Linked DNA regions of Homo sapiens: regions 1 and 2 are each linked to region 3. Evidence: fine-mapped expression QTL. A gene starts in region 3. Each other region holds a variant in brackets. All regions are shown on one strand. Distances are from middle to middle.

Evidence for each region. PIP is the estimated chance that this variant, and not a neighbour inherited with it, causes the effect.
Region 1: its variant is the best candidate, but not a certain one, in a credible set for the expression of IL32 in whole blood (TOPMed, PIP 0.80).
Region 2: its variant is the best candidate, but not a certain one, in a credible set for the expression of IL32 in whole blood (TOPMed, PIP 0.60).

The regions. Positions count from the first base shown.
Region 1 is chr16:3,167,876-3,178,382 of GRCh38, forward strand. TRP-CGG1-2 (tRNA-Pro (anticodon CGG) 1-2) reads left to right here and starts at 4,173; the gene lies at 4,173-4,244. TRK-CTT2-5 (tRNA-Lys (anticodon CTT) 2-5) reads left to right here and starts at 7,816; the gene lies at 7,816-7,888. It also overlaps the pseudogene TRP-TGG4-1. RefSeq lists enhancers at 3,559-3,708, 3,605-4,345, 4,019-4,088, 4,109-4,158, 4,346-5,085 and 2 more and a silencer at 7,784-7,883. The variant T/C (reference allele first, on the strand shown) is at 5,149.
Region 2 is chr16:3,092,445-3,098,296 of GRCh38, forward strand. It overlaps ZSCAN10 (zinc finger and SCAN domain containing 10), which reads right to left. Exons shown (of 6, transcript NM_032805.3): 2 at 98-560. The coding sequence starts at 493. Among named protein-coding and RNA genes, the nearest start is that of ZSCAN10, 3.9 kb to the right of the region's middle. RefSeq lists an enhancer at 270-857 and silencers at 543-736, 2,228-2,297. The variant C/T (reference allele first, on the strand shown) is at 3,583.
Region 3 is chr16:3,061,669-3,068,310 of GRCh38, forward strand. IL32 (interleukin 32) reads left to right here and starts at 3,972. Exons shown (of 7, transcript NM_001376923.1): 1 at 3,972-4,019; 2 at 4,116-4,158; 3 at 5,709-5,747; 4 at 5,886-5,945; 5 at 6,316-6,342; 6 at 6,512-6,571. The coding sequence starts at 4,144. RefSeq lists enhancers at 3,466-3,775, 6,114-6,633.

The DNA.
Region 1 (10,507 bases), 110 kb after region 3:
TCCAAGAGTACAAGGTTGGCCTAAATTCAAGAAAATTATCAAAATAATTCATCATATTAACAGAATAAAAAAGAAGCTATGTGGTGATCTTAATGTTTGGAAGGGCGCTTGATGCAATTCACACCTGCATTAATCGTTTGTTTGTTTTAGAGGCAGAATCTTGCTCTGTCACCCAGGCTGGAGTGCAGTGGTGCAATCTCCACTCACTGCAACCTCCACCTGCCGGGTTCAAGCAATTCTCTCTGCCTCAGCCTCTCGAGTAGCTGGAGTAGCTAGGATTACAGGTGCCCACCACACCAGGCTAATTTTTGTATTTTTAGTGGAGTTGGGGTTTCACTATGTTGGCCAGGCTTCTCTCGAACTCCTGACCTCAGGTGAGCCTCGGCCTCCCAAAATGCTGGGATTACAGGCATGGGCCACCGTGACCAGCCAGAATCTTACTTTGTTACCCAGGCTGCAGCATGGTGGTGAGAACACAGCTCACTGCAGCCTCAACCTTCTCAGCTCAAGCAATACTCCCACCTCATGCACCAGCTAATTTTTTTGTGTGTTTTCTGTAGAGATGGGGCCTCACTATGTTGCTTAGGCTGGTCTCAAACTCCTGAGCTCAAGGGATCGTCTTGTGAGACATTGCGTCCAGCCAATTATTTTCCTTCTTTGCTTCAACTCCCATCAGTTACCAGTTCCTGGACTGGAATGCTGTTCTTCCTCCTCTTTCTTGACTGGCCCCGTATTTTCTCTCCTGTCTCAGCTTAAATGTCACTCCTAGACTCATTGTTCCCATGTCAGGAACTCATCTATATATGACAACACCCTTATGACAGCCTGTAATTTTTGAAAGTCTATTCATTTTATTTTATTTTTCCAAGACAGGGTCTTGCTTTGTTGCCCAGGCTGGAGTGCAGTGGTGTGATCGTAGCTAACTGCAGTCTCAGCCTCCTGGACTCAGGAATTCTCCTACCTCAGATTTCCAAGTAGCTGAAACAACAGACTTGTGCCACCACACCCAGCTAATTTTATTTATTTATTTAGATGAAGTCTTATTCTGTCACCTAGGCTGGAATGCAGTGACGTGAACTCAACTCATTGCAACCTCCACCTCCCGGATTCAAGCGATTCTCTTGCCTCAGCCTGCCGAGTAGCTGGGATTACAGGCGTGTGCCACCACGCCAGACTATTTTTTGTATTTTTAGTAGAGACAGGGTTTCACCATGCTGGCCAGGCTGGTCTTTAAGTCCTGACCTCTAGTGATCCACCCGCCTCAGCCTCCCAAAGTCCTGGGGTTACACGCATGAGCCACCGTAGCCGGCCTGATTGATTTATTTAAATTTAGCTACCGGGTCTTTCTATGTTGCCCAGGATGGTCTTGAGCTCCTGGGATCAAGTGATCCTCCCTCCTCGGCCTCCCAAAATGCTGGAATTACAGATGTGCATCATTGGGCCAGCCTATTTACTTTTTATTTTAAAACAATTATAGATTCACAGTAAGTGGTCAAAAAGAAAAAAAAAAGTACAGAAAACTCTTGTGTAGCATTCACCCAGTATCCCCTAAGACTTCCATAACTGTGGCTCAGCATCAATGCCAGAAAATGAACACTGGCTGTTTTTCAAAGGTATTTTTCTTGGTTATTGTCAATCTTCACTTTGAACTGTGTGCTCTTTATTTTGTGCCTACTATTGTGCCCACCAAAAAATTAGATGCATGCTTTAACACACGACGCCTGTGATCTTTGAGAATAAAAAATTTGACTCCATGTAGATAAATCTAGACCTGACTTGTTCTTTTTCATTTTATTTTATTTTATTTTAGTTTATTTGAGACGGAGTCTTGCTCTTGTCGCCCAGCTTGGAGTGCAGTGACGTGATCTCGGCTCACTGCAACCTCCGCCTCCCGGGTTCAAATGATTCTCCTGCCTCAGCTTACCAAATATCTGGGATTGCAGGTGCATGCAGCCAAGCCCAGCTAATTTTCGTATTTTTAGTGGAGACGGAGTTTTACCATGTTGGCTAGGTTGGTCTCATTCCCGACCTCAAATGATCTGCCCGCCTAGGCCTCCCAAAGTGCTGGGATTACAGGCATGAGCCACCCTGCCCAGCTTGACTTGTTCTTTTTTGTTTGTTTGTTTGTTTTTGAGACGAAGTCTTGCTCTGTCACCAGGCTGGAGTGCAGTGGCCCCATCTCAGCTCACTGCAACCACCACCTCCGGATTCAAGCGATTCCCCTGCTTCAGCCTCCCGAGTAGCTGAGACTACAGGCATGCACCACCATGCCTGGCTAATTTTTTGTATTTTTAGTAGAGATGGGGGTTTCACCATGTTGGGCAGGCTGGTCTTGAACTCCTGACCTCGTGATCCGCCCGCCTCGGCCTCCCAAAGTGCTGGGATTACAGGCGTGAGCTACCGCGCCCGGCCGACTTGTTCTTTTTTAAAGAATTAAAATATGGTCTGGGTCTTTTACTTTGGAAGAGGGGTGTTAACTTCAGAACTGTCCTAGGTTCAGTTCAGATCCCCGCGAGGGAAGGGGATTAAAGAGAGAAGGAAGTTGAGCCTCTGAGCCCATTGCGCCCCGGAATCTGGGAGGCGGCGTGACCAGGTGCCCGGGTTCCATCCGCTGGGGCTGGGCAGCCCCCCTGCCCCCGCCCAGTACAGAGGCTCCTGCCGGGGGAGGCGTCCATCGCGTTCGCTTACTTCTCTAGACCAACAAGCGAGGGACGCGGAGACTGAGTTGGCTGCGGCCACCGGGTCCCCGGACACCGTCTTCATTCACTCCCACCCTCAGTCAAGCACCTGTACCCGCAGTCCTTTCCTAAAAGAAGAAAAACGGCCGGTCGCGCGCTGTCCAGAGTACTCAGTCCTGGATCCAGGAGGTGGCTGGCGGTGAGCTGATTTCCGGGTTCTTAAACCCGGGCCCGGGGCCCAAGGCCCCGCCTGGTGGGGTCTCATCCTGCAGTTTGAGAAACCGAAGAAGGTAGGAGAGGGAGGAAGCGCCGGCTTTGCCTGTGAAAGATTCTTTCATTCGCTCCATTCTTGTTCTTGCGCGCTGGATTTACCAGGCTAACAAACAACAGCTGATCACGGCAGGCTGGGCTCCTCTGGGACTCGCACCGGGGCCTCTCGCACCCAAAGCGAGAATCATACCTCTAGACCAACAGGCCTCGGTGGCGGGAAGCACCATCTTTGCTCCTCCACTCCCTCACCCCCCTCCCGCCCCGCGCCTTATCTTTCTGGAACCCAAGACTTCGTATTCTCCGCTCTCCATAAACGTCGATGCCAGCTCTAGGAGCGTGGCCGGGAGCCCACGATCGCGGCAGCGAGAAGCCCAACCAGAGGGGAGGAGGGAGTCCCCGGAGTGGGACAGCGCTCAGGTCTGGGGTGGGGTTGATCTAGGGCAAAATAGGGCGGGCGGCCTGTGGCGATGGGCAGGACCCTCTCGCCCACCACACGCGGAACTCGCTGGATCCTCTCCACATCCAGGCCGCGTCCACTGGCTTTCCAACCTGCTCAGGTCCTTAAAGAAGGATTCAAAAGGTGTTGCGGTATTGGCCCAACAGGATTTGACCCTGAGGCCCACTCTCACCCTAATCATAACCGCAAAACCACAGCGCCTGGAGAGAGAGTGAGAGAGAAACAGAAACGGAGCGAGTGTGTGTCGCTGTGATGCCCTTTGCCGTCGCTGCTCATCCCCAGTGACCTCCTGGAACTTTTTCAGCTCTTGCTGACAGAGGAAGACACGGGGGCAGAGCTAACGTCTGAGTCAGGGCAGAGGCGCTGGGCTCCATCCGAGGGAGGCTATGGGGGCGCCTCTGGGATGGAGCCAACCACCGGCGCAGTCGGATGAAAGGTGGGCTGGCCGCTCAGCCATCCTCCTAGGGCAAGGCCTTGGGTATGAGTCAGCAGCCCCAGGTGTGAGCGCAGACCCGGTAACCCCGGCGCAGGGGAAAATACAGCGGGGAGCCCCAGGCTGCAGGCCTGACCCTGAGCATCCCCTACCAAGCCCAGTGTGGATGGGCTCTGTCTCCAAGGGGCTGGTTCACCAGGGTCTCCCCGCAGCGACCCCAGAATTCTGCCAATCACTTGGGGACGGCGATGAGCTCTATCCACTTCGGAATCAGCCGATTTGTGCCGGATTGGTGGCAGGTGTCTGAAATGTCAGCGGAAATACACGCACGGGAGGCTCGTTGGTCTAGGGGTATGATTCTCGCTTCGGGTGCGAGAGGTCCCGGGTTCAAATCCCGGACGAGCCCTAGAAGTGGTTACTTTTCCCTTGTCATTTTAGAGAATATAGAGCTAGAAAATCGGGGACCGAGCCTGAAGCCTCAACTACCAGTCGCGTTGCTCCGCTTCAGGTCGGTCCAGGTCTGTGCCTCAGCTACAAGGGACAAGGATGCTCCTGAGGCTGGCCTGGTCGGCACTTGCCTCAGCCTCGAGGGAGTCCCGCGCCCTTCTCCTTCCCAACCCCAGACCAGAGAAGCTGTACCCTCTGCAGCCCGGGTCGCTCAGCTCCACATGGGCTCCGGGTATGGTGGAGGCCGGTGGTTGGGTTCTGAGTGATCGAGTAGTGTGCACGGTCTGGGCGGGCCCTGGAGAGCTACTCGTTCCTCGACCTCCCCTCCCCGCCCTAGAAACCCACATCTCTGCAGGCCAAGGCGGAGTCACAGATGAAGCTCGTTGAGAGCAGGTCAAAGCTGCCTGACCCGATGGCCCCCTGCTGCGCTAGCCAGGAAGGTGCCCAGGAGCCACATATGGCTCTTAAACACTTGAAATATGGCTGGTCCCCTTGAGATGTGCTGCTGTGAGTACAAAATACACATCGGGATTTTGAAGACTTCGTACCAAAAAAATAAGATATCTCATTCTCTCATTACACATGGAAATTAGATTTCGTGTCTACAGTATTGAATAATATACACACATATGAAAAACATATGTTTTATATCTAAACATATATATTTTATATGTGTTTATATATTATATGTAGTATATATGTATCATATAATTATATTAATAATATGATTATATCATAATAATATAATTGTATTATATAATTATACTTTTCTTTGAGAAGGTGTCGCTCTGTTGCCAGGCTGGAGTGCATTGGCACCATCTCGGCTCACTGCAACCTGTGCCTCCAGGGTTCAAGAGATTCTC[T/C]TTCCTCAGCTTCTGAGTAGCTGGGAGTATAGGTGGGTGCCACCACGCCTGGCTAAATTTTTTTTTTTTGAGACGGACTCTCACTGTGTCTCCCAGGCTGGAGTGCAGCAGTGCGATCTTGGTTGGCTCACTGTAACCTCCGCCTCCTGGGTTCAAGTGATTCTCCTGCCTCAGCCTCCTGAGTAGCCGGGATTACAGGCGCCCGCCACCACACCTGGCTAATGTTTTGTACTTTTAGCAGAGACAGGGTTTCACCACATTGACCAGGCTGGTCTCAAACTTCTGACCTCGTGATCTGCCCACCTCGGCCTCCCAAAGTGCTGGGATTACAGGCGTGAGCCACCGCGCCCAGCTATTTTATTATTATTATTATTATTTGAGACAGAGTCCCTGTCACCCAGGCTGGAGTGCAATGGTGTGATCTTGGCTCACTGAAACCTCTGCCTCCCGGGTTCAAGTGATTCACGTGCCTCAGGCTCCCGAGTAGCTGGGACTACAGGGACTCAACAGCACTCCCGGCTAATTTTTTGTATTTTTAGTAGAGACAGGGTTTCACCATGTTGGCCAGGCTGGTCTCGAACTTCTGACCTCAGGTGATCCGCCAGCCTCGGCCTCCCAAAGTGCTGGGATTACACGTATGAGCCGCTGCTCCCGGCCTCGGACAGTTCTTTTAGGGGTAGAGGGAAAGATGACAGGACCAGGCTCCCCATCCCTCATCTGCACCCCACAAACATGGACCCACAAAATTGAGGCTCTCAAAGGCCCCAGCTTACACATCTGTAATGTGAGGATAATGGCAATTAAAAGATTAATTCGAGTATTAAAATTTCTTCATGTTTTGGTAAAGCATGTAGAACAGTGCTTGAAGACTTCCACATTAACTCTTGGCTGCCCAGCCTATACATTTCAGACTTGCCCGATCACATGTGCCAATTCATTTAAATAAATCTAGTAAAAATAGCAACACATCCATGCACGTGTACACATAAGCGTCATCCGTCTCAAGTATCTCTTCTAATGGTTTTGTTTCTTCTTTCCAGAGCCTAGCTGATACAGCAAATCCTCCAGGTGTTTGGTATGGTGATTCACCAGCCCAAGAAGAAGTAAAAAAACGGAAAGCCCAGGTCGAAGCCCCAGTGCTGGGGCTGAACGTGAGGGGTCACCCCATACACACTCCCCTCTCGCTGCTGGAAAAACCTGCTGAGGTTAGAGCTGCCCTCAGCCCCTCCCACTTTTTCTTTTCTTTTTTAAACTGCTCGTTTCCTGTCCGGATAGCCTTCCTCCGGGCGGCAAGGCCCGACCACCACGGCAGCATAACAGCCTGCCCCAGTCTGGCTAGCTAGGTGGGTCGAGATGAGACTCCACTCCCCCCACCCCTTACTCTCAGGCATGTGACTTGAGCCCTCTCAGGCATCTCCCTTAAACCTTGGACGTAGGGTTTGAGGGGCGCCCCCTCCTGGCTGAACTCTGGGGTCCTGGAAGAAATAGGACCTCAGCGTGGAGTGAGAACAGAAGAGCCAGGAAAAACAGAGTCCACGGAGCGCCTGAAGCCGCCGCCCGCACAGCCCTGCCAAGGAGGAGACTCGAACCTGGGGAGATGCAAGTGCTGAGGGCTCAGGGGGGGATTCTTTTTTTTTTTTTTAATTTTTATTTTTTCTGAGACAGGGTCTTGCCCTGTTGCCGAAGCTGGAGTGCGATGGTGCAATCATAGCTCACTGCAGCCTCAGCTTCCCGAGTAACTGGGACTCCAGGCGCGCGCCACCACGCCCGTCTAATGTTTAAATTTTTATTTTTTGTAGAGACGGGTGTCTCGCTATATTGCCCAGGCTGGTCCCCAACCCCTGGGCTCAAGCGATCCTACCCCCTCGGCCTTCCAAAGTACTGGGATCACAGGCGTGAGCCACCGAACCTGGCTAGGGAATTCTTCTTCAGCCGAACAGCAGCGGCAAAGGCTAAGGGTCCTAGAAAGGAACGGGAAACCGTCACCTGCCCAGGTGGGACGCGAGGCAAGGAACCCAGCGCAGGAGGCCGCTGGGTCACGGAGGTTTCCTGTCTGCTTCCCGCCGTCACTGCCGGCCGCCTCCCACCTTCTCCCGGCCCCCTGCAACCCAGCCCACCCCAGCCCACCTCCCCCTGGTGGGGACACGGTTTTCTTTCCGGGGTGCCTCGCAGTTCCTGCAGTCCCTCCCTCTTCCCCACCCCCACCCCCATCCTTTGGGCAGGAGTCACAACAATTTCTTGCTCCAGTTTGGCAGCTGCGGCTCTGTGCCACACCCTCCAACGGGGCTGGATGCCCAGGGTCTGCTGCCTCCATGGGATCTGGCTGGGCTCGAAGTCGGGGCTCAGCAAAGGTATTTCGTGTGAACGAGGAATCCACGGGTCAGACCCGCTTCCACAGCCCTGAGTCGGGGCGGGTGCCAGGGCCAGTCACCCTGACACTCAGGAGGTGCCGGCCTGTGGGGCGTCCGCGGGTGGGCCTCTGACGCAGAGAAAGACCCAGATCCAGCTACCTCGGGGGCCTCCTGCTGCGCCTCGCCTTTGGGGCAGGCCTGAGGGCAACGCTTACTGCGGAGCAACTGTGTTCTACAGTGTAGTCCCGACACTGAAGACTCCTGGTCCTGGACTCTGCTGTAATCTAGAAATCCACTAAGGTAACGTTGGCGTGTCGCCCGGCTAGCTCAGTCGGTAGAGCATGAGACTCTTAATCTCAGGGTCGTGGGTTCGAGCCCCACGTTGGGCGATTCCTTTTTACTGCGAGCCTCACCCGCAAGGATAGCATTGTGAGTTTCTGTTCCAACTGGGTCAATTTTCTTCTCTCAGCCATCTGCCCCTGGCGATGCAAGATTTGGTGAAAGCAGATGCCTGCTCATCCCAGGAAACCATCCTGGAGTGGGGTTTCACTACTCCTGACCTCAGGTGATCTACCTGACTCAGCCTCCCAAAGTGCTGGGATTAAAGACGTGAGCCACCGCGCCTGCCCTGAATTTCCTCTTCTTGTAAGGACTCCAGTCATATTGGATTAAGGCCCATCCTAATAACCTCATTTTGTCTTAATTACCTCTTTAAATACCCAGTCTCCAAATACAGCCACATTCTGAGGGACTGAGAGTTAGAACTTCAACATATGGATGGTGGACAGTCACAACTCAGCTCATTAAAGTGAACATTGTGTACATGGTTTAGTATGAACATATGTCTTAAATTTCCTTGAGCATAGGAGTGGAATTCCACTTAGGAATGGAATTTTGGGGTCATTTGGTAGTTCTGTGTTTAACATTTTGAGGCTATTATTCACAGTGGCTGGATTATTTTATATTCCCACCAGCCTGACTGAGGGCTCGTGTCCTAGAAAAGTAGTAATAGATTTACATAGATATTTTGCATCAAAAAATATTTATTCTGAGATTATACTTAAAAACCAGGAAACAGGCTGGGCGCGGTGGCTCACGCCTGTAATCCCAGTACTTTGGGAAGTCAAGGTGGGTGGATCACGAGGTCGGGAGTTCGAGACCAGCCTGGCATGGTAAAACTTCGTCTGTACCAAAACCACAAAAATCAGCTGGGCGTGATGGTGCGCGCCTGTAGTCCCAGCTACTGGAGAGGCTGAGGCAGAAAAATCGCTTGAACCCGGAAGGTGAAGGTTGCAGTGAGCCGAGATCGCGCGCCACTGCACAGCAGCCTGGGCAACAGAGCGAGACTCCGTCTCAAAAAACAAAACAAAACACAACAAAAAACAAATGGAAACAATCTACTTGCCCCAAAATAGGGCATAGATTAAATGAAATTATCATAAATCCAAAATGGAGGATAATGTCATAAAAAATAATGTTATATAATGATGATCCCATGTGTGTAAAACTCTAGAAAATGCAAAATAATACAGTGACAGAAAGCAGAGAGTGACGGACTGCCAAAACTTACCAAATTGTACACTTTTTTTTTTTTTTAAATGGAGTCTCACTCTGTTGCCCAAGCTGGAGTGCAGTGGCGCGATCTCGGCTCACTGCAGCCTCTGCCTCCCAGGGTTAAGCGATTCTCCTGCCTCAGCCTCCCGTGTAGCTGGGAACAGGCACGTGCCATCACACCGAGCTACTTTTTGTATTTTTAGTAGAGACGAGGTTTCACCATGTTGGCCAGGCTGGTCTCCAACTTGTTAGATATGAGTTCCAAATTTCTTTTCAAAGATTCAATATGTCAGTATGTTCAATTCTTTACCTTCTACTTTTAAACTTAACTTCCTCATAAAGCAACCTTTTTCAATTACCTACTCCACCCTGACTCTTTCGATTACCTGCTCTGTAATAACCATTTTTCCCGCCAAACCATTCGCTCCGTCACTCTCTTTAAATTATCCAATGGCAATTAGTTTAGCCTGTGCGGTCTAACCCTAGCCAATAGGGGAATGACACAGCAGCAGGGGCCACGTGCGAAAGGGATAAGAACCCCTTCCCCTCCCTTGTCCAAGTGTGCTCTCACCATTGCTCCATCTGTAAGGGCGCACCCTTCTATAGAAGTACCTTGCCTTGCTGAGAATTAAAAACAAAATTTTATATTTTCGGGCTATTTCTTTTGCGGCACCGAAACTTTGTATATAACAAACTCCTGACCTCAAGTGATTCGCCCACCTCCGTCTCCTGAAGTGTTGGGATTACAGGTGTGAACCACCGTGCCGGGCCTACAACCGGCAATTCTTGATCCTTCACACCGACTCTCGCTGTCCTCCAAGATTTTTCCTCTTTACCTATAGAGTCTCCAGGACTCGATCCCCAATCCCTTGCAAGCCCTGCAGGGAAACTGGAGGGCACTGGCTTCCCCACCTTTACTCCCCACAGTTGCTCCTCAGGACCACAGGAACGGAAGGGACCAAGCCCCTAACCTAGAATGTTAGTGATTTTAGAAGGAAAAAACTTTGGGCTTATTCAGGACTAGAACCTGAGATCTCTTACGCCTTATGTGAAAAGCATGCCTGAATCAGGCTTGACGGCACATTCCTATAATCCCAGAACTTGGGTAGTCTGAGAAGGGAGGATTACTTGAGCCCAGGAGTTCAAGACCAGGCTGGGCAACCAAGAGGGACCCCATCTCTACTATTGCTACTGCTACTACAAAAAATAAATTGCCAAGAATTGTGGCTCAGCCTGTAGTCTCAGCTACCTGAGAGGCTGAAGTGGAAGGACTACTCGAGCCCAGAAGGTCGAGGCTACAGTAAGCTGTGACTGCATCACTGCACTCCAGCCTGGGTGACAAAGTGAGACTCTATCTCAAAATTTCAGAAAAAGCAAAATAGAAAAGCAGGCCTACTGATCAGTGCCTCTTTCTTTTCCTTCCTTCCTTCCTTCCTTCCTTCCTTCCTTCCTTC
Region 2 (5,852 bases), 30 kb after region 3:
TCAGGTGGGGGAAAGTGAAGTTTCCAGAGATTCCTCACTGGGGGGATCAAGTCCCCATCATCCGCATGCTGCTCAGCCCGCTGCCCCACCCTCTCACCAGCGGCCCCGCGTGGCTGGGCTCCCGGTGGATGCCCTCGAGCAGCAGCACCACCTCCTCCCCATCCCTGAGCGGCTGCCCCTGCAGGCGGCCCAGGAGGTGCGGAGGCAGCACACTCAGGAACTGCTCCAGCACCAGCAGCTCCAGGATCTGTTTCTTGGTGTGCAGAGCCGGCCGCAGCCAGTGGCCGCAGAGCTCCCGGAGCCGGCTCAGGGACGCCCGTGGCCCCATGTCCTCCTGATACTGGAAGCATCTGAACAGCTGGTGAGCCACCTCGGGCCTCAGCCTGGACTCTGGTCGCCTGGGGTCCTCTGGGCTGACAGCCTCCTCCTCCTCCAGCTTGACTTCCCCCAGCTGCTCCTGCTCCACGGCAGCTGGGACTGATTCTCCAAGCATCCTTCACTGCGGGGATGCCTCCCTAACGCCAGCCCCGCTCTTGGGTCTCTCTCCTCTCCTCCCACACCTGCGAAGGTGAACACCCTGGGTTAGGATCTGCTGCGAGGAAGCTGGCCCCATACCTGGGTCATCCATGTTAAAAGACACCCAATACGCAGACCCAGAGGAATCGCTTTTCTCACTGGGTAATGGCTCACGAGGGCAGGACAGCCCCCGGTCTCAGGGTTACCAACAAAGCAAAGGCCAGAGAAAACTGACAGTTCTGTATTATCATCCCTCCTTAAAGCATTTAGAGATTTACATCACTTGGCCGGGCACAGTGGCTCACACCTGTAATCCGAGCACTTTGGGAGGCCGAGGCGGGTGGATCACGAGGTCAGGATATCGAGACCATCCTGGCTAACGCGGTGAAATCCCGTCTCTACTAAAAATACAAAACAATTAGCCAGGCTAATTTAGTCCCAGCTGCTGGGGAGGCTGAGGCATGAGAATGGTGTGAACCTGGGAGGCGGAGCTTACAGTGAGCCGAGATCGCGCCACTGCACTCCAGCCTGGGTGACAGAGCGAGACTCAGATCAAAAAAAAAAAAAAAAGAAATTTGCATCACTTTTCCCAAGTGATTAAAGTGACCATCCCTGAAAGAGAAACACCCTGCCCTTCCCTTCTTCCTGATGTAGCCACTGGGAGCACATGGCACCATCAAGATGGATCCTGGCCAAAAAAGTTTGTTTTTTAAAGCTTTTTTTTTTCTTTTTTTTTTTGAGATGGAGTCTTGCTATATCACCCAGACTGGAGTGCAGTGGCATGATCTCAGCTCTCTGCAGCCTCCACCTCCCAGGTTCAAGCGATTCTCATTCCTCAGCCTGGGTTTACAGTAGCTGGGATTACAGGCCTGTGGCAGCACGCCCAGCTAATTTTTGCATTTTTAGTAGACACAAGAGTTTCACCATGTTGGCTGGGCTGGTCTTGAACTCCTGACCTCAAGTGATCAGCCCACCTCAGTCTCCCAAATTGCTGAGATTAAGGCGTGAACCACTGCACCAAGCCTGTTTTTTAAATTTTTAATTTAATTAAGTAATTTATTTATTTTTTTGAGACAGGGTCTCACTCTGTCACGCAGGCTGCAGTGCAGTGGCGCAATCACGGCTCACTGCAGCCTTGATCTGCTGGGCTCAAGTGATCCTCCCGCGTCAGCCTCCCGAGTAGCTGGGACTACAGGTGCATATCACCATGCTGGGTTAATTTTATTTATTTTTTGTAGACACGAGTTCTCATTATGTTGCCCAGGCTGGTCTCAAACTCCTGGGCTCAAGTGATCCACCTGCCTCAGCCTCTCAAAGTGCTGGAATTACAGGCGTGAGCCACTGTGCCTAGCCCAAAAATACCTAATCTCAATCCAACCAGCCTTTATTTATTTATTTATTTGAGATGGAGTTTCACTCTTGTTGCCCAGGATGGAGTGCAATGGCAAGATCTCGGCTCACCGCAACCTCCGCCTCGCGGGTTCCGGTGATTCTCGTCCGTCAGCTTCGTGAGTAGCTGGGATTACAAGCACGCGCCACCGCATGCCGCTAATTTTGTATTTTTAGTAGAGATGGGGTTTCACCATGTTGGCCAGGCTGCTCTCAAACTCTTAACCTCAGGTGATCCGCCCGCTTCGGTCTCCCAAAGTACTGGGATTACAGGCATGAACCACCCCGCCCGACCTAATGGTGGCCTTTAGATCCAACTTCCAATGTTTAGGGCCTTGCAGGGAATATGGAACAAGTCAGACCATCTCTCAAAGAAATTGGCCTGAGTTACTCAGTGTCATAAAAAGTAAGTGCCTGTAGGAGGCGCTGGTGGACAGGAGCCCAAAGAGTCCTCACAACTAAGTGGGTGAACCTAGATTGGATCCTCATTCATTTTTCTTAAAGGCTTTAAAAGACATCCTGGGGCCAGTCGGAAAATGGTGAGTATGGTGGGGATACTAGATGATAACAGTATGACTACCCATTTCTGAGATGAAAGTCTAGTCTTGTAATATATAGGAAATGGCTGAGTTCTTAGAAGACGCTGAAGAGTTTGGAGAAGGGGCCTGATATATGAGATACATATATGAATGTTCATTTCACTGCTCTTTCAAGTTCTCTGGATGTTTTCGAATTTTCAAAATGAAAGGTTAGCGGGGCTGGCTCACGCCTGTTATCCCAGCACTTTGGGAGGCTGAGGCAGGAGGATCACTTGAGCCTCAGGAGTTCAAGACCAGCCCTGGGCAACATGGCACGACCCCCGTCTCTAAAAAAATTAAAAATGTAGGGCAGGGTGTGGTGGCTCACACCTGTAATCCCAGCACTTTGGGAGGCTGACGCAGGCAGATCACAAGGTCAGGAGATCGAGACCATCCTGTCTAACATGGTGAAACCCCGTCTCTACTAAAAATACAAAAAATTAGCCACGGGTGGTGGCGGGCACCTGTAGTCCCAGCTACTCGGGAGGCTGAGGCAGGAGAGTGGCGTGAACCCCGGAGGCGGAGCTTGCAGTGAGCCGAGATCATGCCACTGCACTCCAGCCTGGGCGACAGCGAGACTCCGTCTCAAAAAAAAAAAAAATTAAAAATTTAGCCAGTTGCTGGGGGCACTGAGTGGCTGACGCCTGTAATCCCAGCACTTTGGGAGGCCGAGGGTGGATCACCAGGTCAGGAGATCGAGACCATCCTGGTTAACACGGTGAAACCCCGTCTCTAATAAAAATAAAAAAAATCAGTCGGGCGCAGTGGCGGGTGCCTGTGGTCCCAGCTACTCAGGAGGCTGAGGCAGGAGAATGGCGTGAAACAGGGAGGTAGAGCTTGCAATGAGCCAAGATCGCGCCACTGCACTCCAGCCTGGGCGACAGAGCCAGACTCCATCTCAAAAAAAAAAAAAAAAAATTTAGCCAGTCATGGTTGTGTATACCTGTGGTCCTAGCTACCTGGGAGGCTGAGGTGGGAAGATTGCTTGATCCCAGGAGGTTGAGGCTGCAGTGCAGTGAGCTGTGACTGCAACATTGCACTCCAGCCTAGGCGACAGTGCCAGCCCGTCTCAAAAAATAAAAAATATAAAATAAGTCAT[C/T]TATAGCCACCAGGAGGCACTGACATCCTCCCCCAACCTCCTCCCAATCTAGGGCTGTGGGGCTTCCCCTTCCTGGTCTGGTAGCCCAGTACTACCCATGGGGAACCTCCGAAATTTCGGCCCCACCCACAGGGGACTCAGTTCAGCCCTGCTCAACTAATTGAGGCTGGATGATTTAAGCTTTTCTGAGCAGAGCAGAGCAGGCTCATATTTTTGTTTGAGTCTCTTTTACATTTTATTTCAGGCAGGGGTCATTTTATAGACATGGAAATCCAGGCTCCTGCCCTCTGCTTTCTGCCCTTCCTGTTCTCTAGCCTCAGGGCTACAAGTGAACCTCTCCTAGAGCCTCCCACCCTCCACTCCCAGTTGGCACCCCAGGTAGGGGGATGTGAAGAAAGCCTGAAGCACCACTCCACTCACCTGAATGGCACAGGGCACTGTCCAGCATGCAGTGGCTGGCACACAGTAGGCATCCATGAGCACGAGCTATTACTGTTCTCATTGCTGCTGATTACAACACCAAGCACCGCAGCAAACAGTGACTCACAGTTCTGTTGGGCCCATCACTGACCCATTCTACAGCCGAGGACACTAAGGCTCAGCAAAAAGGTAACCCAGTGGCCGAGTGCAGTGGCTCAGGCCTGTAATCCCAGCAGTGTGGGTGGCCGAGGTGGATGGATCACCTGAGGTCAGGAGTTCGAGACCAGCCTGATCAATATGGTGAAACCCTTGTCTCTACTAAAATTACAAAAATTAGCCGGACGTGATGGCATGCGCCTGTAGTCCCAGCTACTCAGGAGGCTGAGAGAGGAGAATTGCTTGAACCTGGGAGGCGGAGGTTGCAGTGAGACGAGATCGTGCCACTGCACTCCAGCCTGGGCGACAGAATTAGACTCTGCCTCAAAAAAAAAAAAAAAAAAATTATCCGGGCATGGTGGCATGCATCTGTGGTCCCAGCTGTTCGGGAGACTGAGGCAGGAGAATCTCTTGAACCCAGGAGGCAGAGGTTGCAGTGAGCTGAGATTGCATCACTACACTCCAGCTTGGGCAACAGAATGAGAATCTGTCTCAAAAAAAAAAAAAAGTAACTCAGCCTTGGGCAGCCTCTCCCTGGTAACGATGGCCTAGTTGAGAGCCTTGGACAGTTTGCTGTACCCCCTTAATATGAGCCTGAGGGTTCCCTGAACCTCCTCAGGTGGGGTGGTGTTGTGGTACAGAATGGGGGATTTTAAGCTTAGCCGCTGAGAAGGAGGGGAGGTGATTCTAGAACATGACCCATCTCTCCCAACCTCCCTGCAACACACAGTATCTTCCAAGCCCCTCACCCCTACCCCGGCTCCCCTGCATCTCCCAACCTCAGCCACCTGGGGAAGGACTCTGACAAAATGGAACGGGAAGTTCCCTGCCCCAGTCCCATCCCATCCAGGTGTTGAGGGGCTTCCTAGCGTTAACCCTCAAGCTCCCAGTTTGGGAGGTGGATGGGGACAGGGTGGGGCCAGATAAGCGAAGACAAAGTGAGAAATCCAGATTTCAACCCCTGCATGTGTGAGAGTGTAACCACCCCCGAGCCGGAACTACGCTTTCCTGCCCTCTGGCATCCACTCCAGGCAGCCCCCATCCTCCCACCCCATCTCTCCCCACTAGGGCGATGGAGTGCCTCAATCACAGATGAGCGTATTTCTCTGCCTGGCCTGGGAGTAGGAGCTGTGTCTAGTTCAATGAGTGTTCATCCAGCACTTGAAGTTGCTTCAGTGTCTGTTAGCAGAAATTAGGGAATGGCAGTGATTCTGGCCATCTCGAAGGAAAGCATGTAACAACGTCTAGGACAGAAAAAGTCTGTGATAAATGATCAGAAAAATGGTGTTGTGAGGCCGGATGCGGTGGCTCATGCTTATAATCCCAGCATTTTGGGTGGCCAAGGCAGAAGGATTGCTTGAACCTGGGGGGTCAAAGCTGCAGTGAGCCATGTTCGCGCCACTGCACACCAGCCTGGATAAAAGGCGAAGACCCTGTCTCAAAAAAAAAAAAAAAAAAAAGAAAGAAAGAAAGAAAAGAAAAGAAAAGAAAAAAAAAGAGTGGGGGAGGGGGAAGAAAATGGGATTACGTTTCACTGGTTTTTAGTAGCATGCACAAAATAACAAGAAAACTAATCACTGCTCATCCATTGCCGTGCAGGAGCAGCGGGCAGGTACTGAGTGTCTGGCGATTAAGCTCATTTCATCCCAGTCCAGCCCACGCACGAAACAATCACTTCTCCCTTTGCCAAGTGC
Region 3 (6,642 bases):
GAGCCATGATCACGCCACTGCACTCCACCCTGGGCAACAGGTGTGTCTCAAAAAAATAAAAATAAAAATAAAATTGGCTGGGCACGGTTGCTTATGCCTGTAATCCCGCATTTCGGGAGGCTGATGCAGACGTTTGAGAGGCAGATGTCACTTGAGTTTGAGAGTTTTAGACCAACTGGCCAACATGGTGAAACCCTGTCTCTACTAAAAATACAAAAATTAGCCAGGCGTGGTGGCGCATGCCTGTAATCCCAGCTACTTGAGAGGCTGAGGCAGGAAAATCGCTTGAACCCAGAAGTTGGAGGTTGCAGTGAGCCGAGATCGTGCCTCTGCACACCAGCCTGGGAGACCAAGCGAGATTGCATCAAATAAAAAAAAAAAAGAAACACAAAAATTGTCACATGGTACCATTTCAGCGCACTAAGATGGCTAGAATTAAAAAGACACAGAGCATAACAAATGTATCTGGGGATGTGGAGAAACAGGAACCCCCGGGCACTGCTGCTGGGAATGTAAAATGACAGACAATTTGAAACATAGTCTGGCTGTTCCTCAGAAGGATAAAAACACATTTGCCATGTAACCCAGCTATTCTTCTCCTTCATACGTATCCAAGAGAAGTGAAAACATAAGTCTGCACAGAAACTTTTGCGTGAATGTTCACAGCAGCGTTATTCAGAATAGCAAAAAAGGGGAAAGAACCCCAACTTCCTTTGAGGGGTGAATGGAGAAACCAAATGTGGTCTATCCACACAGTAGAATATCATTCAGCCAGAAGAAGGAATGAAGGACTGATCCGTGTTACAACACAGATGAACCTCAAGAACAGCATGTTCCGTGAAAGAAGCTAGACACAGAAGATCACGTAGTGTATAATTCTACTTATAAGAAATCTCTGGGAGAGATGCATCCATTGAGAGAGAAAGTAGATAAGCCCAGACGCAGTGGCTCATGCCAGTAATCTCAGCATTTTGGGAGGCCAAGGCGGGCAGATCACTTGAGGTCAGGAGTTCGAGACTCCTTGGCCAACATGGTGAAATCCCATCTCTCCTAAAAATACAGAAATTAGGCCAGGCTGAGTGGCAGAACAAGACTCCACCTCAAAAAAAAAAAAAAAAAAAATTGTCACGTGATACCATTTCAGCCCATTGGGATGGCTGGAATTGAAAAGACACAGAGAATAACAAGTATTGCTGAGGTTGTAGAGACACGGGAACCCTCGCACACTGCTGCTGGGAATGTAAAATGACAGACATTTTGAAAAATAGTCTGGCTGTTCCTCAAAAGGATAAAAACACATTTACCATGTAACCCAGCTATTCTTCTGCTTCATACATATGAAGTGAAAACATACGTCTGCACAGAAACTTGTACGTGAATGTTCATAGCAGCATTATTCGGAATTAGCCAAAAAGTGGAAAGAACCCAAATGTCCTTCGAGGGGTGAATGGAGAAACCAAATGTGGTCTATCCACACAGTAGAATATTATTCAGCCAGAAAAAGGAATGAAGGAATAATGCGTGTTACAACACGGATGAACCTCAAGAATAGCATGTTCAGTGAAAGAAGCTAGACACAGAAGATCACCTAGTGTATAATTCTACTTATAGGAAATGTCTGGGAGAGAGGCATCCATTGAGAGAGAAAGTAGATGAGGCCAGACACAGTGGCTCATGCCTGTAATCCCAGCACTTTGGGAGGCCAAGGCGGGCAGATCACTTGAGGTCAGGAGTTCGAGACTCCTTCATCAACATGGTGAAACCCCGTCTCTACTAAAAATACAAAAATTAGCTGGGTGTGGTGGCACGTGCCTGTAATCCCAGCTACTCGGGAGGCTGAGTCAGGAGAATTGCTTGAACCCAGGAGGCAGAGGTTGCAGTGAGCCGAGATCGTGCCACTGCCCTTCAGCCTAGACAACAGAGCGAGACTCTAAGAAAAAAAAAGAAAAAGAAAAAGTAGATGAGTGGTTATCCAGGGAAATGAGGACTGGCAGTGATGTCTCAGAAGGGCAGAATTTCTCTTAGAGGTGATAAAAATGTTCTAAAATGGGTTGTGGTGATAGCTGCACAGTTCTGTGCTTTGAATTGTACAGCTCAATGAGTGAATTGCATTGCCTGTAAATTGCATCACCATAAAGCTATAAAAACAGGGTACATACAGTCTGGGTGGATCCCAAGATGTCTTCAGATGGTGGCCTTTGAGAGTCATGAGGGGCTAGGGTTGGAGCTGAAGCCTAAAGCATGACTTTTAGCTGGTGCAGGAGTGGCTTCCTTCTGTCTCCCACTACAATTCAGAGGATACTCAGGGAAAGATCTGGACATCCTGTATGTGGAAAGGCGGTTGCGCACAGTGGAATGGACTCCTAAGTGGCAGGCAGGTGACAACCGTTGTCTACTTCACCCAAGGGAAGATTTCTCCATGGAGCGTGTTTTATAGGTTCTGTCTCTCCGAGTCCCCTTTGAGAATATAATGGGATACATTGCATCCATGCTGAATTCCTAAGCCCCAGGACCTCAGAATATGCCCTTATTTGGAAACAGGGTCTTTATGGAGGTACTTAAGGTACAATGAGGTCACTGGGGTGGATCCTACTTCTTTTTTTTTTTTTTCCGAGGGGAATTTTCATTGTTGTCCCCCAGACTGGAGTGCAGTGGCACCATCTCAGCTCACTGCAACATTCGCCTCCCGGGTTCAAGTGATTCTCCTGCCTCAGCCTCCCGAGTAGCTGGGAATACAGGTGCCGGCCACCACGCAAGGCTAATTTTTGTATTTTTAGTAGAGACAAGGTTTCACCATGTTGGCCAGGCTGGTCTAGAACTCCTGACCTTAGGTGATCTGCCCGCCTCGGCCTCCCAAAGTGTTGGGATTACAGGCGTGACCCACTGCGCCCGGCCTAGGGTGGACCCTATTTCAATATGACTGGTGTCCTTTGGAAAGGGGAAAGGGGGACAGTCACACCCAGGCAGAACGTGATGAAGATGAAGATGGCCATCTACAAGGGCAGGAGAAACCTGAACAGAATCCCAGCTCCGGGCCCTCAGAAGGACCCCACGCTGCCCACATTGACCTTGGACCTCCAGCCTGCAGATCGTGAGGGAAGAGACGTCTTCGACTTAGGGCCCCTTGTCGTGGTACTTCCTTAGTTTGGCCCCAGGAAACCATCCCAAAGGCAAGGGCGTGGTTGTGCTCAGCTGGGGGAAGGGGGCTGGGGGCCGTGAGGAGGAGGTGGGAGGCCCAGCCAGGCTGGAGGGTCAGAACCCGTGGAGCTAGAAGAGCCCGTAGGGGAGCCCCAAGATTGCTGAGACCAGTGACCTTCGGCCCCAGATGGCCTTGCCTTGGCCCAGAAGGGTCAGAAGGACCTGGTCAGCCAAGCTCAGACAGCCGGCAGGATGCCTTCCACCCTGCAGAGGGTCCTATCTTGTCCCACAGGTAGATCTACATCACCACTAGCCACCCCTCCAACGTGCACAGGCCCCTGCCCTCACGGCGCCCCTCTTAGGTCCGGCAGTTCCTGCCTCCTTCTGATCCAGAAGTTTCTCTGGCCTCTGGAGCCGGGGCACACCTCATGCAAGGACAGGGTCCAAATTCCTTTGTCCTTGGATCCCACTTGGCTGACGTCACCTTCCTGTACTCAGGGAGTTTCCCCAGCCAGCTGTCCCGAGTCTGGACTTTCCCTCTGCCCCTCCCCACTCTCAGGCTGGTGGGGTGGGGAAAGCAGCCCATTCCTGGGCTCAGAGACTCCCACCCCAGCTCAGAGGGAGCAGGGGCCCAGCCAGGGACGGACCCTCATTCCTCCCAGGGACCCCAGACCTCTGTCTCTCTCGGGTAAGTCTCCATCTCTGTCTGTCTCTGTCTCTGTCTCTGTCTCTGTCTGTTTTTCACGCACTCAGCAAGGCCTCCTGCCCTGAGAGAGGCTCCGCCCACTACCCCCCACTTTCCCCATAAAACCAGCTGAGTATTTGTGCCAGGAAGACTGCGTGCAGAAGGTGACTGTCTCAGTGGAGCTGGGTCATCTCAGGTGGGGAGTTGGGGTCCCCGAAGGTGAGGACCCTCTGGGGAGGAGGGTGCTTCTCTGAGACACTTTCTTTTCCTCACACCTGTTCCTCGCCAGCAGGCCTTGGCTCCTTGAACTTTTGGCCGCCATGTGCTTCCCGAAGGTGAGTGAGAGGCTGCGTGTGCTTTTGTGGGCATGTCTGAAAACAGACCGTAAGGGTGCGGGTGCCCTCAGTATTTCCCGAGGTGCCTGTGTGTCAGGGCTCAGTCAGGGGCACCCAGCGGCAGGAGGATAGTGATGGGGTGAGAGTGTCAGTGGAGGCGCTGGAGGTCATATGTGTCGGGGGCGCTGGAGAACGGCAGGGGTGTGGATGAGAGGGAGCACCTGTCCCAGGAGCCCTTCACAGCCCGGAAAGCCCGGGGCAGGGGTGGGGCAGGGCTCTGCTGGAAACGACTCGGAGAATGCTTCTCTCAGAGGCCGGCTCAGCTGGGTGGGCCCAAGAGCAAGGCCTGTGTGGGTCCTGGTGTCTCTTCCTCCTTTCCTGGGTTCCCTCCGACCTCCCATCCTCTACCACTGCCCCACCGCAAATGCTAGGCCCACCACACCCTCCAGGGAGCTCTTCGGCCTGTGACAATAGGGGTTTCCATGATGTGGCCTGGCTCAGGTTCAGGACAGTGACCCGGAGGACACATGGCTCCCGCATGTCGGCACGGTGCTGCTTTCACCCTGGTTCCTGGGAAATCAGGCTAGCGGGATGGGACCATCGCTGCCTGAAAGTGTGCAGACAGCTGCCCTGCCCAGAATATGTCCCCAGGCCCTGCGCACTCTGTGGGTGACTGTCACCACTCTATAGTGGGGGAAACCAGGCATGTCACCCCCGAGACTAGGCCCTTGACGTGGGGGCTCAGCGGGGATTCTGTGGGGTGCCTCTGGCCTCTGTGGATGCAGCCACGTGTCTGCAGGCAGGAATGGCCCGGGACCTGTGGGTCTGCATGTTGGCAGTCGGGAAGAGTGGCAGGTTGTAGGGTGGACCTACCTGGCACCCCAAATATTAATCAGCTCATCAGAGAGGAATGGCTGCTGTTACCTTCTCAATTGTCATGTCCCTAAACATTTTTTCCTTGGCCAACTCTCACCTGGGACCATAGTGGTTGTGGGAAACCCAGCTGAGCCAGCCTGCTCCAGGACAGTGTCCATCCTCCCGTGTGTGTACATGGGGGGGTGTGTGTGTGCAGGGAGGACACCCCGGCCCACGCAGGCCCTGCTCTTGTGAGGAGGGGTCACCTAGGCCCACGCAGGCCCTGCTCTTGTGAGGAGGGGTCACCTAGGCCCACGCAGGCCCTGCTCTTGTGAGGAGGGGTCACCTAGGCCCACGCAGGCCCTGCTCTTGTGAGGAGGGGTCACCTAGGCCCACGCAGGCCCTGCTCTTGTGAGGAGGGGTCACCTAGGCCCATGCTGGCCCTGCTCTTGGGCCTGCCCAGCTGAGCCGGCTCCTGAGAGAAGCGCTTTCTGAGTCGTTTCGAGGACAGCCCTGGCCGGTCTTTCCAGGCTGTGAGGGGCTCCTGGGACTGCTGTCTCCTCTTATCCTGTACCTCTGCCATGTGTCTCTGTGTGTGTGTGTGTGTGTGTGTGTGTGTGTGTGTGTGTATAAATTATCCTGGAGGAAAGGTTAAGGTGACACATGGAGACTGAGTGTCACCGTTATTTCCGCAGGTCCTCTCTGATGACATGAAGAAGCTGAAGGCCCGAATGGTAATGCTCCTCCCTACTTCTGCTCAGGGGTTGGGGGCCTGGGTCTCAGCGTGTGACACTGAGGACACTGTGGGACACCTGGGACCCTGGAGGGACAAGGATCCGGCCCTTTGGTGCCAACTCTGCCTCTCTTCACAGCACCAGGCCATAGAAAGATTTTATGATAAAATGCAAAATGCAGAATCAGGACGTGGACAGGTGGGTGGATTTCCCCTCAGGCACCAGGTCACATGTCCCCGCCCCCAGGCACTCCACCCTGTGTGGGGCTCAGGGTGAGAAGGATGAAGAGGGACCCACAGGCTCCCTCACCCCTTACCGTGGGCAAATGCTTGCACCTGGGTGGCAGTGAGTGGGCGGGTGGGGGATCTGGACGCCCGGGGAGACTGAGGGAGGCATCCAAGCCCCAGGGCTCCTTGAGGAAACAACAGGGGTGCCAGACGTGGCCCGGGCCCCTGGCTGGGCCCAGTTCGGGGTGTGTGGGAGCTGAGGACTCACTGGGCTTGAGGACTGACTGATGTGGGGTGCAGAGGAGGCTTGGGCCTGGAACCGAGTGCTTTGTTCCTAACAGGTGATGTCGAGCCTGGCAGAGCTGGAGGTGAGCCGTGGCCTCCCCCTCCACCAAGCTTAGTCCCTGGGTCTTAGGCTCCACAGGACACTGGGTCTGGGCCCCGGGTCCCCTTGGGAATCACCTGGACCAGTGGGGGCCACAGTGGGAAGGGGGCAGGCAGGAGCAGCATGAACCCCCTGTGCCCTCCTCTCCCCAGGACGACTTCAAAGAGGGCTACCTGGAGACAGTGGCGGCTTATTATGAGGAGCAGCACCCAGTGAGTATGACACACCCATCTGGGCACCTTGCCTTCCTTCACCTCTGCCCTGTCTTTTCTTTCTTTCTTTC